2 separate regions of the Homo sapiens genome follow, and region 2 is linked to region 1. The links come from fine-mapping of genetic effects on gene expression. A gene starts in region 1. The other region holds a variant in brackets. All regions are shown on one strand. Distances are between the middles of the regions.

Region 1 (8,503 bases):
GGGAATCAAACAGAAGGAACTGAGCACAGCCATGTAAAACATGCCCCAGTCATTTCGTAAGCTCTGTTTCTTCACAGATGGCTGCTGTGGAAGAAATGACTGCTTACAGAAAGCAGAGATCCAAAAATTAATCCAGCCACTGGGATGAAAGCAGGATGAAAAATGATCCTGTTCTATAATTCACATTGGTGATTTACCAGGTCTGGGCTATAAGACATCTAGGGATAAAACTGCTACTCAAAAGCAGATCTGGCAAAGGTGAGGAAACGGTGTGAAGGGCAGGTACTGCTGAAGATCTCTAGAGTCAAAAAAGGATTCACCAAATTAAAATAGAATGTTTCACAGACCAGTAAAGCCAGATGGGAGTTGGTAGCTCATACATATCCTTGTATTTCCAAGAGATGGGAGACTCCAGACTCTGAAAGGGACCAAACACAAGCTCACCTGCTGCGGCAGTACCCAGAGCTGAAAAGAGAGGATGCCAAAGGAATCCAGCCTTCCCGAATCTACACTCTCAAGGCTGGGCTTTGGGACTCTAAGGGTCTAATAAGCTATGGCTCTTATTTTATATCATTACAACAACTGCTTTGGTTCCTTCATTCTTTCACTACTTACCTGTGCTTCTTTACATTTCACAGGTTGATGATACATTACTGCTTTGGATTTCCCTTCAGTTTCATGGTTCAATCCAATGCCCACGTCTACATTTCTTTCACTGCCTTTATACTGCTGTACAGTTAGACTTCATCTGCTACTCCACACACACACAAATCTCTCCCTACTTCCTCACTCCTCATTTCCTGTTGGGAGCTAAGTTTAAAGCTTCATCCTTCTAGATCTACTCAACATTCCTTTTTAAAAGGTAGAGAACAAGGAACGTAGCAGCTGTGTTCGCTGAGCCATTGAATTCACACTGCCCAGCAGCCCTTGAAAGTCAACTGCAGCGTCCATCAGGGCAAGGACTGACAGTTTGTTTCAACACTGAATATGGTTAGTACCTGGCAAGGAGCAGGAGTTCAATAACTCTTGGCAATAATTCGTCATCATTTTCCCCCTGAAATCCATTTTATTATTCTTTTTTTTTCTTTTCAGGCTAGAGTGCAGTGGTGCGATCTCAGCTCACTGTAACCTCCACCTCCCGGGTTCAAGCGATTCTCCTGCCTCAGCCTCCTGAATAGCTGGGATTACAGGTGCCCATCACCACACCCGGCTAACTTTTGTATTTTTAGTAGAGATAGAGTTTCGCCACGTTGGCCAGGCTGGTCTCGAACGCCTGATCTCAGGTGATCCACCTGCCTCAGCCTCCCAAAGTGCTAGGATTACAGGCGTAAGCCACTGCATCTGGCCCGTTTTATTCTTTTATTCTCAAATTATTCTCTCTACAGGACAAGAGAAGGTTTAAAAATCACTGAATCATGATTTTAGGGAAATATTCAACCTAAAAGGCAGGGCCAAAATCTCAAAGGGTCCCAAATTTATCCCAACAGCCAAAGTTCCTCCTCCTCCTCTTTCTCCTTCTTTTCCTACTCCTGTTTTTCTTCTTCTTCATATCTTGAACCACATGACAAGAAAAAAAAATCTAGACTCTTTACCTATATTAATTAATTTACTCTTCATGAAAACCACATAAGGTAGTTACTATATTATGTCCATTTTTACAGACGAGGAAACAAACGATTGTGTTGCCTGCCAAAGATCAGCACACAACTGAGAAGCTGCAAATCCAGGATTTGAACTCAGGCCATCTCACTCTAGAATGTCAGCTCCTAGCTGCCCTGCATACTATGTCCTGAAGGAGAGCTCTTAAGAAGGCCAACTGAAGCCTATGGGGAACAGTATCCTGGTCATTCATTTCCCAAATTGTTATTGAGTGTCTACTATATACCAGGTGCAGGGAATACCCCCAACAGCCATGGTCACTGTTCCTGTCTAGTCAACATTCCTGTTGCTTTCCTAATTGCCATTTGTTATAGCTCCCAGAGAGTAAGCATGCTGAATCCATTAGAAAAGGAAACTCAAGAGTGAGTTCTTCTTCCATATCTTTATCCTTTAAACTTTATTATAGAGAACAATTGCCACTCCTCTCAGCATTAGTTGGGACTCCAGCAAGAACCAGCTAGGACTATGTATCAGCCTGGAATGCATAGTTACAGAACTAAATGGAAATGGGAAAATGAATACAACGGTGTTAGGAAGTCCCTCTCTGCCCGATGATTAGATTGAGGAGATGTATTGGCAGCTGTAAGGAGGGTGGCTTATTCTTGCCCCTTCTTCCCTTGGGAAGGTCTTCAAAATTGGAGGAGTTATGGCTGCCCAGTCACCTTCTAGTCACCTTACAGAGAGAGCAGGAGAGCAGAGTGGCACATACCCTCAGGCAGGATTCCTGAGTCAAAGGCTGGCTGCTGACACTTGCAGCCTCTCGGTTTTATTTGACCTTCACCTTGTGCGGAACCCACCCGCGCAGCACAGGACAAACCCCTTCTCCCGGGACTGCTGAATCAGCCACTCTGGGAGTGGCAGGAGAGAAGTTTCAGACTCCTGAGACATTTGGTCTATTCAGCACCATGAAGAAAACGGCTGTAGCTCAGTGAGAGAATCACAATCAGGAGCTGGCTGAATAAAGGTGATAAAAATAGATTTCCCGACTCCACAAAGATGAATCATTTTGCCATAGGGATTCGCCAGGCTCTGTTTCAACCTGATTTTCAACCCAGCCTCATAAATTTGGCTAAGGAAAATTTTCTTCCCCTAGATAACCAGTGCCATGGAACGTTTAGCATTCAGACGGGTCTGACGGGATTTTATGAGACAATTGTCCAGAAATAACCCCCATTCCTTTCCCGGCCTGCAGTAAATAGTGACTATGAAGGACAAGGACTAAGTGGGCAAGGCTGGAGATGCAGCCCTTCCCTCCAGACTCCTCCCTGCCTCCCCAATGTCTTCCTTGCTTCTTTTCCTCCTCATTTTAAGAAATGGAAGTTTTTAAAAAGCAAAGGGGGCTGTGGAGTCAGGAGCAGAATGTGACAGGGGCTCAGGTGAAGCAGCCCCACCATGAATGCAGCCACATCTCCCCCACAACACCATGTGCTGCTGGACCACATCTTAAAAATGCAGCCAAGTTGCTTCTCATTCTCAAAATTCTCAAAAATCCTTTTTATTTTGACTAAACTAATGGAGTTATGTGTCTTGTACCACATACCGGAAAATAAAAAACAATGCTTTCCTTAGGGAATTAAAAAAAAAAAAAAGCTTAATTAAAAGCAACAGGTGCTAACAGTTATCAAAGGACAAGATGAATCCACAGGAAAGTAATTTTCATATTATTTTCGCCATACTAATAAGTGAATAAAAAGTCACTTTTTTTTAAACCAAGTATTAAAGTCTAAATAGCTTCCTTCTTTCCATCATGGATACCCCTAAGCATGTATTTCTTTTATAATGAATTTTACTTACCCCCACACGTCCTCATGCTCCGCAATGAACTCCAGCCAACCCACTCTGGGAGATGGGAGGGGCATCTCTCCTGTGTGCTCCTCGTCAGCCCCAGCACAGCAGCCGAAATGCCCTTACATTTCCTTTCCCAAAACAGTCGTCACCACTGCCAACCCCTGCTCTGTCCACAAGCAGGCTGCTGCGGCTGAAATGCTGATGCAGTGAAAGGGAACTGGAAGACAGCTGATTGCCACACCTATTGGAGAGGGAGGCGGAGAAGCCCATTCCCTCTGAGGAAAAGGAATGGCATCTTCAGAAGTAGAGATGCCAGGATTGGAATTGTGCAGAGAGCTTTGTGTCAGCCACTAGCACACAGTAGGTTTGCAGTACTGTCAGGAAATCTGGATCTAGAAAAAGCACCCAAGTGGGACCCGAGGAACAAAGACTCACTCCAGTCCCAACTCTGGAACAAAGTTGCTGCCTGACTCCAGGCAAGTCACTGCCTTCTGGTCTCAGTTTCCTTATTTGTAAAATAACAATGTTTCAAAAAGTAAATCTCTAAGTGGCTTCTAGTTCTGGGATTCTAAGACCATCCTAATGTTCATGAGCATAATAAAAAGTAAACTACCATTTATTGAAAACATCCTGTGTACCATCCATCATATTAGGTATTTTATGTATATCATCTCATTTAATCCCACAATGCTGAGATGGGATTTATCAACCCCATCTTATAGATGAGGAAACTGGCAAACTCACTCCATGAATCCCCATGAAAAAAAAGGATCATCATATTCCTTCAGTGTTTTGAATTTAAATGGAGGCATTCAATCTTTGTGCCTGAAATTGAGATGACATCTGAGAATGGAATTTCTGCACTGCTGGGAGATTAATGTGTTTACAGTCCTCTGCTGGTATAATTCTGAGGTACTAGTATTTATGGTTATGGCTGTTCATGCTACTGCAAAATCCATTTTCCACCTGTTGCTTTTTATTAAACCTCCCTAAAGGACATGAACTATTTCTTTCTGCAGATTCTAAAAGCAGGATGCTGAAATATGTGAGCAGAAGCATCGTGTGCGGAGTTACCATTTGGAATTTTCAAATGCTATAAAACACAATGTTTACAACCAATTCATCATTTATAAAAGTTTATTGGATTAATATGCCAATGGACTCACTGGTATCCTGCCATTTATTGACACAAATACATCAAGTGGTAGGCTGACATTTAATATTTATTAATAACTTCTGTATTTCCTTACCTATTTCATAGTTTCCTTGCATTATGCTCTTTTATCTTTATTGTCATTCATCCTACTTTAAGTGAACTTTTTATTTTAGAATAGTTTTTAGATTTATAGAAAGCTACAAAGATAATATGCAGAGTTTCAGTATAACTCATGTCTTACATCTTACATTCCTATGGTACATCTACATTTATCACAGTTAAGAAATAAACACTGGTACACTACTATTAACTAAATCCATGTTTTATTTGGATTTCATTAGTTTTTCCCTAATATGCTCTTTCTGTTTTAAGATCCCATCTATAATGCCATATAATATTTAATCATTATGTCTCCTTAACTTTTTCTGGACTTTCCTTGTTTCTCAGATATGCCTTGCTTTTGATGGCCTTGACAGTTTTGAAGAATACTGGTCGGGTATTTTGTAGAATATCCTTCCATTTAGGTTTGTCTGATATTCTTTCCATGGCTGGGGATATAGGTTTTTGTGAGGAAAAAGTACCATTCTTTTAACACTGAGGGAAAAGAGGAAAAGTACCATTCCTATATAACATTATATCAATCATCCTATTTTTAATGTTATGTTTAAGTTAAATCAAAAACTTAAACTGAATATAGTTAAATTTTAGAAAGGAAAAATTAGATATCAAACTACTCAGAAATCTAGTATTTTATACTGTGGACAGAGCGACAGAGAGGAATTAATTTTTGTACCATTTGAGATGAAGGTAGACCTAACATTCTAGCAGAAAGCCAGCTAATTACAAGAGAGGCGTCTAGCGAGTTCTTTTGAAATGCTTGCCAAGACAAACTTCCTACAAAAACAATCCAGAGGAAGGCACGTTTTAAGAGAAGTGCTGTTTCAGCCTAGCATGGTCTCATACTTCATACATTTGGTGGTATTTTTTTCCTGTTGTCAAACAACCAAATCCCTATAAACCTGGGTTTGGAATACATGCTAAGAATTAGTTCCACAGAAAGTTATCCTCTAGGTAAGCTATAACTATGGAAAAAAAGGAGTCAGACGTCAGCTGAAATATGTATTTCCTGCTATTATATATTTTTTGCTCACAGTTTGTAATTGAAGGTCTATTCCTAAGGGAAAAAAGTGAGGAACTGATGTAATGTCACAAATTCTGCTAAACGCTGTTCAACGAAAGATAAGGGAGAACAAGTGGTTTCTTTCTTCAAAGAATGGCATTTTTTGTTTTTTCGGGAACAGGAAAGGGAAAAAAAAATGAAGTTGGGGAAAAAAAAGCTTTACAGCACTGCTATATATAACCTTCCACCTCTGCAGAGACACAGAATAATTATGGAAACAAATTTGGAAAAATAGTTTGTGGTGGTGCAGAAAGAGGATATTAGACTTCAGCTAGCAAGTCTAGGCATTCAAAACACACGTGAATAAGAATTTAAGGGCTTAGCTGGCTAACCCACTGTTACGAGCTAAATTGTCTCCTCCTCCCTCCCCCAATTCGTATCTTGAACTCCTAACCCGTTCTAACTCAGAATGTGACTGTAGTGACTGTAAGAAGGTAATTAAGTTATATGAGGTCATCTGAGGGGGCCCTAATCCAATACGACAGTGTCCTTATAAAAAGGCAAAATATGGACACAGATACATACAGGGGAAAGACCACGTGAAGATGCAGGGAAAGGCAGCCATCTGGGAGCCAAGGAGACAGGCCTTAGAACAAACCCACTCTGATCACACCTTGATCTCAGACTTCTAACCTACAGAATTGACAAAATAAATTTCTATTATTTAAGCCATCCAATCTGTGGTACTTTGTTATGGCCATCAGAGCAAATTAATATACTCATCTAGTACTAAGAATGAAATATCAGGGGTATAAGAGAGGCTGCAGGGCACAAGATTGGATGGATATGATATCTCAATGAATTGTCAATTATATGAAGATCTTTCTTTTCTTTTCTTTTTTTTTTTTTTTTTTTTTTGTGACAGGGTCCGACTCCCATCACCCAGGCTGGAGTCCAGTGGCACATTCAAAGCTCACTGCAGGCTTGACTTCCCAGGCCCAGGTGATTCTCCTACCTCAGCCTCCTAAGTAGCTGGGACTACAGGCATGCACAACCATGCCTGGCTAATTTTTTGTATTTTTAGTAAAGACAAGATTTTGCCATGTTGCCTAGGCTGGTCTTGAACTCCTGGGCTCAAGCGATCACCTGCCTTAGGCTCCCAAAGTTCTGGGATTATAGGCATGAGCCACTGCACCGGTCTTTCTGTCATGATTTTCAATTCTAAGTGCAATTGCTAATGACTTTTCCTGTAGTCTCAAACTCCTTTTTTCACTCCTTTCTCCATATCCCAGTCCCTGCCAATGTGGATCAAACACTCCAAAGACAATACTATAATTTGGAGGGGGAGGGGAACTTCATAGTGGTTATAGAAAAAAAAAATATGTCTTCATTTATACTGAAGCATAGGATTTAACTTCAAAATAGTCCATCCATTAACCTAGTCCAATTTTTTGTAACTTTTTCCTTGAGTTCCAAACCAGCATTTCTAATAGTCTGCCAGACATCTGCACATGAATATCTTTTAGAGATAGCCAACTCAATATGTCCAAAAGAGAATGCATCTTTTCTTTTGGAGCTCATTTCTCATTCCCATGTTCCCATGATTCCTATTAATGGCATCAGTACCCTCCACACTGCTCAAGTCCAAAATGCAAATGTCATCTTCCTAAAATTATCTGTTGTATTTCATCAGTTCTAAGATGTACACCTTTTTTAACCTCTGAAATAAAGATGCATTTTTTTCATTGCCAGTGTCTTAGCATTGTGTCATCATTGAATTGGCAGCTTTTTTAAATGAGCTATAATTTTTAAAAATGGTGTGTGTCATCATTGATGGCATATTACATTTAGTGAAAAGTAAATCCTGTCTCCTCATCTCTAATCCCACTGCTTCTACTAAGGTTTAAGTGTCCATCCTCTCTCATTTGGACTACTTATCTCCTACTTGACTTTTATTGCTGGTATCTTGCCATAATCAGCTTTCTATACGGCCACCTCAGTTATCTGGAACACGAGATTCCCTTGTTTTCAGTGGCTTTTACTGCACACAAAATGAGTCCAAACACCCCCAGATGGCATTTCTGGTCTCAGCTTACTATTCCTGGTCTAGTTTCCAAGCATGGATTTTCTCAGGGACTCTGCGTCCAGCTGCAGCCACTGGACCCAGTGCAAATAATGCAAATGATAGCCACTTCCAGATAAGACCCAGGTCCTTCTGACTCAGAGCCTTTCTCATTCCATGCCCTGAAGCTAGTTGTTCTTCCTCTAACTCCATGATCTTCACTATTTGTAGACGCCCTGTTCAAATCCCACCCCTTCCAAAGTTCTTAATCACAAATCAAAATTTCTTCCTTGGTCTTTCTTGCATATTATACTTCATTAACATTTCACAGTCTACCTTACATTTGACCTTTCTTCTATATTTGTCTTCTAGAAAGTAGTCTCCTAAAAGGCAGGAATTATGTCTTGAAGTGGATTTTTACTTGGAAGGCAAGAGAGAGAACACATCATCTCTATTTGGTATATATGTGCAGAAGAAAATTAGAAAAAAGTCCTTGGATGTCATGCAAGAAAGGTTAACCAAGGAAAACTGTGTTATCTTTAAAGTCCTATAAGCACAAGGAGCCGGTGTTCAGGAGAATGAGAGATCTATGCCCTGGCTGCTCAATAGACGGATACAACCATTTCATTCATCGGGACAAGCAGCTTCTGAAGAGCTCCCAGAGATCCCTTCCTCCTGGCATTCAGACCCTTGTGGGACCTCCTCCCCTTGAATGTGG
Region 2 (8,503 bases), 170 kb after region 1:
GTGATACCTCTAAAAATAGCACTGTTCTAGTCTTATAAAAATAGGAGTAAAACAATCTATTAATGCCTCTTTTTAACCACTCCCAGCTTATAATCTTATACTCACCTCCAAGAAGTAGTCAGTGTTCTGAATAGTTCATTTTAATTATTTCCTTCCTTCCCTTATCATCTGTGTGTTCTTGTATATTACCACATTTTTAATAAAATGTTAGTAACAATTGGTGGTAGCCTCTTTGGCATCCACTTTACCCATTCTTCTACTAAAAGTACCCAGATTTTCCTCTAGGGAATTCACTGCTTCTCTGTTGGGTAGCAGCCAGCATCTTTGATAGGGACGGACCAGGGTGAAGTCTGATTGGCTTAGGCTAATCAACTCATCTATTTCCCTGGTGATCATGAATGAGAATGTGTCCTCTTTCTCTGCCCAGAGGGTGTAAAGAGAACTTGAGGACTGGAGTCGCTCTTTCCCAGCCAGCCTTTAGTGGAAAAGCCTGGACCTTCTGAAGTGGGGTAGGGCAGGTGTGGAGGCCCTATGTAAAGCCAGAGCATAAAGCCACACAATGCACAGCACGGTGGAAAGAGAGAGAGAATCCAGATCCTTACTGATATCATTGAGCTGCTGAGTCAGCCTTTGTATGAAGTAGGGATCTACCTCCAGAACGTCAATGAGCAATCAACTGTCTATTTTTTAGAGCCAGTTTTGGTTGGATTTCTGTTGCTTGCAACCATAAGAATGCTAACTAAAACAAAAAAAAAAATTGAATGAAAAAAATTATTAAACACACACACAGAGTTTAAAATAAAATAAGAAATACATTTTTAAATATATCATACTACTTACAACTCTTGATGGAAGTTAAAAATGAGTGGCCTATCATGTCAGAGCAATACCAGGGTTCATCAGGCTGCTTGGGAACCAGAGTCCCCATGCATTAGAATGTGGGGTTTGGGAGATGCCTGGAGCACTCTTTCTATACAATCACTCTCCTTCCCAGGTGGCAAAACTGTCAAGGTGAGAGGACTTATTTTTGGAGTTTCTTTTAAAATACAGAAAACATGTCTAAAGCCAACACTGGCCTCCAGCATCCTTAGGCATCCCCTACCTCTACCCTCCTGCCCCCAGCTCTTTACTGCTGTTCCCCCTCATCAATATCCCTCACAGACACCCTTGGTCAACAGCCTGCATTTGCACCCTGTATTAGTCTGTTCTCACACTGCTATATAGAACTACCTGAGGCTGGGTAATTTATAAAGAAAAAAGGTTTAATTGGCTTACAGTCCTGCAGGCTCTACAGGAAGCATGGCTGGGGAGACTCAGGAAACTTACAATCATGGCAGAAGGGGAAGTAGGCATGTCCTGCATGGTAGGAACAGGAGGAAGAGAGAGCAGGGGGAGGTACTACACACTTTTAAACAACCAGATCCCGTGAGAGCTCCCTCACTATCTCAAGAACAGCAAGGGGGAAATTTGCCCCCATGATCCAGTCACCTCCCACCAGGCCCCTCCTCCAACATTGGGGATTACAATTCAACATGAGATTTGGGCAGGGACATAAATCCAAACCATATCACACCCCATAGCATGGTGGTTAGGAGCACAGGTAAAGCAGCCAGACTGCATGAGTTTGAAGATCAGCTCTACCACCTAATGACCGTAAAACCCTTAGCCATTCACTCATTTCTAGGTTTAATGGGAGTAATAAGAGTTTGTAGCTAGCTCATAGGATGGTTGAAAAGTCAGGTGCTTAGGACAGAATTTGCCAGGCCATAAGCTCTCATAAATGTTAGCTATGTTTCTATTCTTTTGTCAGGAACTATAGTAATTTGAGAGAGTTTGGAGAAAATCCAACTGCTGTCCTCCCAGACAAGGCCAGCCATGGCCCAGGCCGGGCCAAGAAGCACGGAGGATTCCTATCTTCGGTGCCAGGACCATGCAGCTTTCCTGCAGCCCACTCTAGCTTCATCCTGCACCTCCCTCATACCTACTCCCAAAGCTCCTGCCTTACTGGTCTTCTTCAGCTCTTCCATTAAGGCAAACACTACAGCCTGAAGTGTTTGCCTAGAACATGATTTCTTGCTCATTTTTGCATGGCCAACCCCTGCTCATCCTTGGGGTCTCAGCTTACATAGCACTTCCTCAGAGAGGCTGTCCCATTGCCCCTTAGACCAAAGGAGATCCCGGCCCTTTTTGTGTTCCAGACCAACTTGCTCTTCCCTTTCCAAGCATGCATCACACGCGTGATTCTGTGCTCAGCGTCCATCCTTCCAGGTGGAATGGAAATCTCACATTTGTCTCTCATACTACTGAGTCCCTAGGACACGCTCAATAACTATATGATGAATGAATGAATGATGTCCCAAACGGAGACAAATTGCCAATACTCATATACTGGTGTAGAAAGGGCTCCAGAGAACAGGAATAATCGCAGCCAAGAAGTCACTGACCCTCAGACAAATTGCCAACCCTCAAGTCTCAGTTTCCTCATTTCCAACTCACTTAAGCTTCTCACTCACAATAAGTAACTCCTGTAGGTTTCCTGGATGAAAACAGTGCTGCTTTATGTAGTACCCAGGCACAAAATCTCAAAGAAAAATGGATCAGAAAAACACACACACAGACAATATTCAACTACCTCCTCCAAAGGCAACAGAAGCTTCTCCTGGAAATGTTGTCCAAGGTCTTCTGATAGCAGATAGGAAATGTGAAATTCCTAAAGAAAACATTTTCCATATGACCCAAGATCCCAGGCTCCAGCACTGGGAATCTTCAAGGTATTGTTTTATGTATGCATCTGTGTGGGTAAGTGTGTGAGAGATACTATCTGCCCAAACTATTAATATCTATGTATTTCTACCATAAAACAGTATCCATATTCCTGTAAATGTATGAATAATGTCCCAAACTAAGACAGCCAGCCAAAAACCTTGTATCCTACAAAATCTCACACTAAAAATAACAGGGCTTGTGGAAAATACAGAGTTCATGTAAAAGGCCCAAACCCTACTCAACTTTGTAACCAGAGCAGTAACAAAAACAAGAACACTAAAAATTACCAGCACACATAAAAAGATGTTTTCTATTTCCTATTACAGAACAAACGGAAGATTACACAAAAAGGTGGGGGGCAAGAGCGCATGGTGGAAGGGTGTGAGGAAAGACCGAGACTGCTGCATTATGGAGATGAGAGGAAAATGCAGAAAGATCTGGGAAAAGCAGACGTTTCAATCAACACAAAGCCAAATGGAGTCTAGAGCAAAAAGAGGGGTGTTCACCTCCCTGGCTGGTTGTGTTCACCTCTACTATCCTATTTTGTTTTCAACTACTGCTATTTGGTGGTACAAAATACGCAAGTGTTAATAAAAATCTCACATGAACCATCGCAACTTGCACCTTACCAAGCATGCTTCTCTTATTTCCCAATCGCATATGTAATAATCCTCATTACAGAAACCGACATTATAAAATAGCCAACTATATTTGTTCAGAATGCCAGAGCCTGTGCCACATGAGAGGTCTAAGAGTGGAGCTGCTGTTGGGAGGTGCCAGATGAGGCCAAAAGAAGAACTATCATGTGGGCACTATGTGGGGACTCAGGAGCTACGTGGGATCAGGCCTGCCAGTCTTAACATGGGTGAAATTTATTGAAACAGGCACAGTAGAGAACTTCAAACTGGGACGGGGGCAGCAGATACCTGTGTTACACAAAGACTAAACAGAATACCATACGCAAAGAACTAACGGTGCCTGGCAGGGAGGCACCCTAAATCCACATTTTCCTTCCCCTTGTTTATAATCATTCCAGTCTGGATCTCAGCATCAAGGACTATTTGAATCCAGTGGGGGAGTCAGGTTCCAATCAAGGAGAAAAAGACTGGGGAAATAGACGTGAAGTGAAAGGGAGTAAAAATGGTTCCACCCACTGATGATGGTTCATTGGGCTCCTGTAATGATTTTTCATCATGGTCCTAACCACCCTACTGACAATTATCTTTTAAAACATATTGAAAGGGTTCCAGTTTCAGAGAATGTGCTTGGGAGCCATATGGATGAAATTGTTTCCTCGCAACTAACGGTGCTATGTATATAGAAGATGCTCAATAAACAGCATATTGAACCATTAAGGGAATGAAGAGAGAGAAGGAGAGAGGCAGGTCACCTGCTTGGTTAGGTAGTTACTTGGGACCATGATCTTTTTAGAAGTTTCGCTTTTACTTCTAAAGGGTCCCAAATACTAACTCTGCAAAGGTACTTTTTCCAATAAGTAAATATATACGGAGCAGCTGTTAAGGATAAGGCAGCGGGACACAGCAGTCACCAGTCCAAGCTCTGGAACCAGTTTGCCTGGGTTCAAATCCCAGCTCTGCCACTGATTATCTGTGTGGCTTCAAGCATATCACTTACCATTTCCGTGCTTCCATTTTCCCATCTGTAAAACGGCCATAAACAGTGCTTGCTTGAGAAGTATCTTATATATCAGGCACTGTGCTGGGTGTTTGTTCTATACACAATATACCACCTCATGCAAGCACCTACACTACCACTCAAGCAAGCTCCTAGACTACCGCTTGTACATGGTAAGTGTTCCAGAAGTGTGTTTGCTGTTATTTTTATTTGGCACTGAACTAGCCATTTTTATCACTATTATCACACTCTGTCAACTCTAACAGCATAATGAATCAGGCTTCTACTTGTCACTGGCCCCTCCTATTTATGACATCTTGCATGGTCCCTTAGGGAA[A/C]AAGGTGGCAACCTCATCTGTTGGCTGATGACAACATTCAGCTCCACAGGCAACTTTTTTTTTAATTTTCCATAGGAAAAGAAGAGGGGATGCTATTTCTCAGTGCTCCCATTGGGTCATGACAATTAACAGTCACAGCCGTGGCCATTTATTGATACCATGGATACCAGCTACTAGTCAGTTATTTTGGGTTTTTTTCCTTTAAAAATACCTGTCTAATAAGAACTCATACAGGTGACCACTATAATAAAAATTCTTCCATTTCTTTTTAGATTCACTATCATTGGAAGTGCTCTATCTTTCCCTCATCCTAAGAAGTGGGAATTAGCTAGACTTCTATAACAGGTGAAAGAGAGGTTTGCTTTGACTTAGGGAAAGAAAGAGAAGGTGAGAGCCCTAAGGCCGAATGCTGGGGGCATGTTTATTTAAAGAAAAGAGATGTCTGCTCTCCCGCCTTGCAGCCAGGAACTCCAACGAGCCCTGACCCAGTCTAACTTGAGGGGAGGGTTAGCACCCTAAAGAATATCTTCACCCAAGGGCCAACAGAGAAATCACCCTCCGAGTGTCCAATCACTGACTGTCTCCAGGCAACTATTGGGTAAACTGCTTTTTTTAATCACTACAAAACACACACACACACACACACTTTGCTTCCTGTCAGGGCAGCAACAGAGTCTATTTTCTCTGCCACAGCCAAGTCCAAGTGCCAATCAGGCAACCGTAGCTGGGCACAGACTCACTGAGAAAGCGCTCAGGCAGTGGGGAAATGTGGCTGTGAGGCCCTAGTGAGGAACAGCCTGGCTGAAACAAGGAGGGAACAGGGTGATGACTAAGACGCAGTCCTTGGCCACAGGGCTCTGGGGTTCACCAAAGGAGGCAAATCCCCCCACCACACACACACACAAAAAAAATTCGTGATAGTAAAATACAGCAACTTTTCTAAAAAAAAGGCAAAAACTGAGGCTCAGGTGTGTACAAAGAAGGGAAGGATTAATGAGCTTAGAGGAATCAGGGACCATGCTGCAGAGGCAGTCGGGTTTAAGCTCTATCTTGAAAGGATTTGTCCCTGGAGAAGTGGAGAAGGGGCATTCCAGGTTGTGGCTACCCCAATAGCCATTCTCCCCTTTTTCCTGAGGAATACAACTCAAGAATATTATCTGAGCATTACTCCTGCCTGGGGTAAAAGATCCTTCTCCAGAGTCTCTCCTATATACAGAAAGGGCCATGTTCCTGAAGTTCTGGGCAATAAAATAGTAGCCAGTATGTCAGAAAGGGTTTCCCAGAAGCCACCTTATATGGGAAGGATGCACTCTTCACTTTCCTTGCCTCCATCCAGCTTCCTGGAAAGGTGATGTGATCACGACTCTCCAGCAGCCATGTTAGACTGGGAAGATGGGGGAGGGGGTCTAAGAATGGTAGTTCAAGTGTTGAAAGGAATCTCAGTCAAGGACCTCCAGGGTTTACAATTTATGAGGATCCCAAAGGGCACCTGGCTTTAGTAGTTTATAAAGCCCCCTCTTTTGGAAGAATTTGGGAAAAGTTCCCAAATGAGAAGACATCTGTGGGTCACCACCCTAAGTCTCACACAAAATGGCTCTCTTCCCTCACTGAAAAGCAAGCAGGTTTCCCGCAGCCCCTTCCTGCTAAGAGTGGAGTACAGCCTCTACAGCCTCTATTTTGTCCAAGAATTTTAATCCAGAGTCTAGGCTCAAACACAAATCCCAAAGTCCTCTCCGCATTTTTCTTAGAAGAGTTCTTATCTGTGCCTCAGATGTAAAATGGACAGTGGATCATCATGCAAACTCTGAGTGGCCTGCAAGGAATATTCAAGAACTTCCGAGGCAGGTACCTTCACCCCCTGCCCTACCACCAACACATATCTACCTTCAATAGACCTAGAGAAATTTAAGAGTGTTTCTACCCTACCTTGTTTCAAAACACAATCATAATAAAAGTATGTGTAGCATCCAACGCAAGCCCTTTTCTCAATAAATCATCATCAATCAAATTCTCCTGCTTAGAATTCTTCCGTGGTCTTAGCTTAAATCTTATTTTCACTAAGAATCCTTGTCTTTTTAAAGAGTGCTTTTCTCTTAATCCCCCCTGCCCCATTCTTTGTCTTCATAGTATGTATTCCAAATCGTAATTATATATGTATTGTTTAATCTCTCTGTCCCCCTGCCACATTGTATATTTCATGAGGGCAGGAAGTATGTTTATTTTGTTCATTACCTAACACCATGCCTAACACTATGCTGCACATTGTTGGAGCTCAGTAAACACTTTTCAGGAAATAATTTTTGAAAGCACACTTTCACACATTAAAATATTAATGCTTATTTTTGCCACTGTTTATACTGAAGCAAACTTACAAATGAGTGATAGCCAAGTCTCCCAAATAATTATTTTCATATTTTAACAATTTGACTGAGCTTATTGTCGCTTTCATTCCATTTCAATTGGAATAAGATATTCAATTAAAATAAAATAATTGTTCAAAATATTTTTTAAACACTTCTGAGGGGAGAAAAAGATAGCTATGTACTCATTGCAATAAATATAACTTCAGTTCCTCACTTGGTGCAGACCCATTTGGTGAACATACTTGGCAAAAAAATAAGGCTGAGGAATTTTTTTTAACAGTTTTCAGTCATGGAAATGAAAAAGCTACAAGTCCTTCTGTTCTTGACCTTGATTTCTTTTTTTTTTTTTTTTTTTTATGATGGAGTCTCGCACTGCCGCCCAGGCTGGAGTGCAGTGGCGCGATTTTGGCTCACTGCAAGTTCCGCCTCCCAGGTTCACACCATTCTCCTGTTTCAGCGTTCCGAGTAGCTGGGACTACAGGTGCCTGCCACCACGCCCGGATGATTTTTCTTTCCTTTTTTTTTTTTTTTTTTTTTTGGATTTTTAGTAGAGACAGGGTTTCACTGTGTTAGCCAGAATGGTCTGGATCTCCAAACCTCATGATCCACCAGCCTTGGCCTCCCATAGTGCTGGGATTACAGGCGTGAGCCACCGCACCTAGCCGACCTTGATTTTAAAAGCAAGTGCAGGTGTATTCCTCCATGGCCTCCTAATGGGCTATCTAGGGGTGAATGGGTGGGGCAGTCCCTAACTTACACTGACCAGGAGGCCAAGCTGCAGCCTCCAACAGCCACACTAGAGTAACTCTCACAGGCAAAATGCAGGACAGTGGAAACATGGAGCTTTCCCAACCTAACCAATATTTTATTCTTAAGGTCTCAGCATAGAGCACAGTTTTGCTGACAGTGGGAAAAGGTATCAGCCAAGTTATTTCTTAGGTGCATTTTATATGACTATATCATCTGTCCTTTTCCTGATGCCAAAGGTAATTCCCTGAGATACACTAGCCATCCTGATATGGTTTGGCTCTGTGTCCCCACCCAAATCTCATCTCAAGTTGTAATCCCCACATGTCAGGACAGGGAGCCTGCAGGGAGATGACTGGATCACGGGGGCGGTTACCCCATGCTGTTCTCATGATGGTGAGTGAGTTCTCATGAGAGCTAATGGTTTTAAAAGCATTTGGCAGTTCCCTCTTCGCTTGCTCTCTCTCTCCTGCCACCATATGAGACCTGTCTTGCTTCCCCTTTGCCTTCCATCATAATTATAAGTTTCTTGAGGCCTCCCCAGCCACGTGGAACTGTAAGTCAGTTAAACCTCCTTTCTTTATAAATTACCCAGTCTCAGGTCGTATCTTTATGGCAGTATGTAAATGAACTAATACACATCCCATCAGGGTTA

Evidence for each region.
Region 2: its variant is fine-mapped to the expression of LIMCH1 in sun-exposed skin (GTEx, PIP 0.91).

Annotation. Positions count from the first base shown.
Region 1 is chr4:41,533,301-41,541,803 of GRCh38, reverse strand. It overlaps LIMCH1 (LIM and calponin homology domains 1), which reads right to left and starts at 3,647. Exons shown (of 32, transcript NM_001330672.2): 1 at 3,454-3,647.
Region 2 is chr4:41,366,821-41,375,323 of GRCh38, reverse strand. It overlaps a transcript of LIMCH1 not described here. Among named protein-coding and RNA genes, the nearest start is that of UCHL1, 110 kb to the right of the region's middle. The variant A/C (reference allele first, on the strand shown) is at 4,739.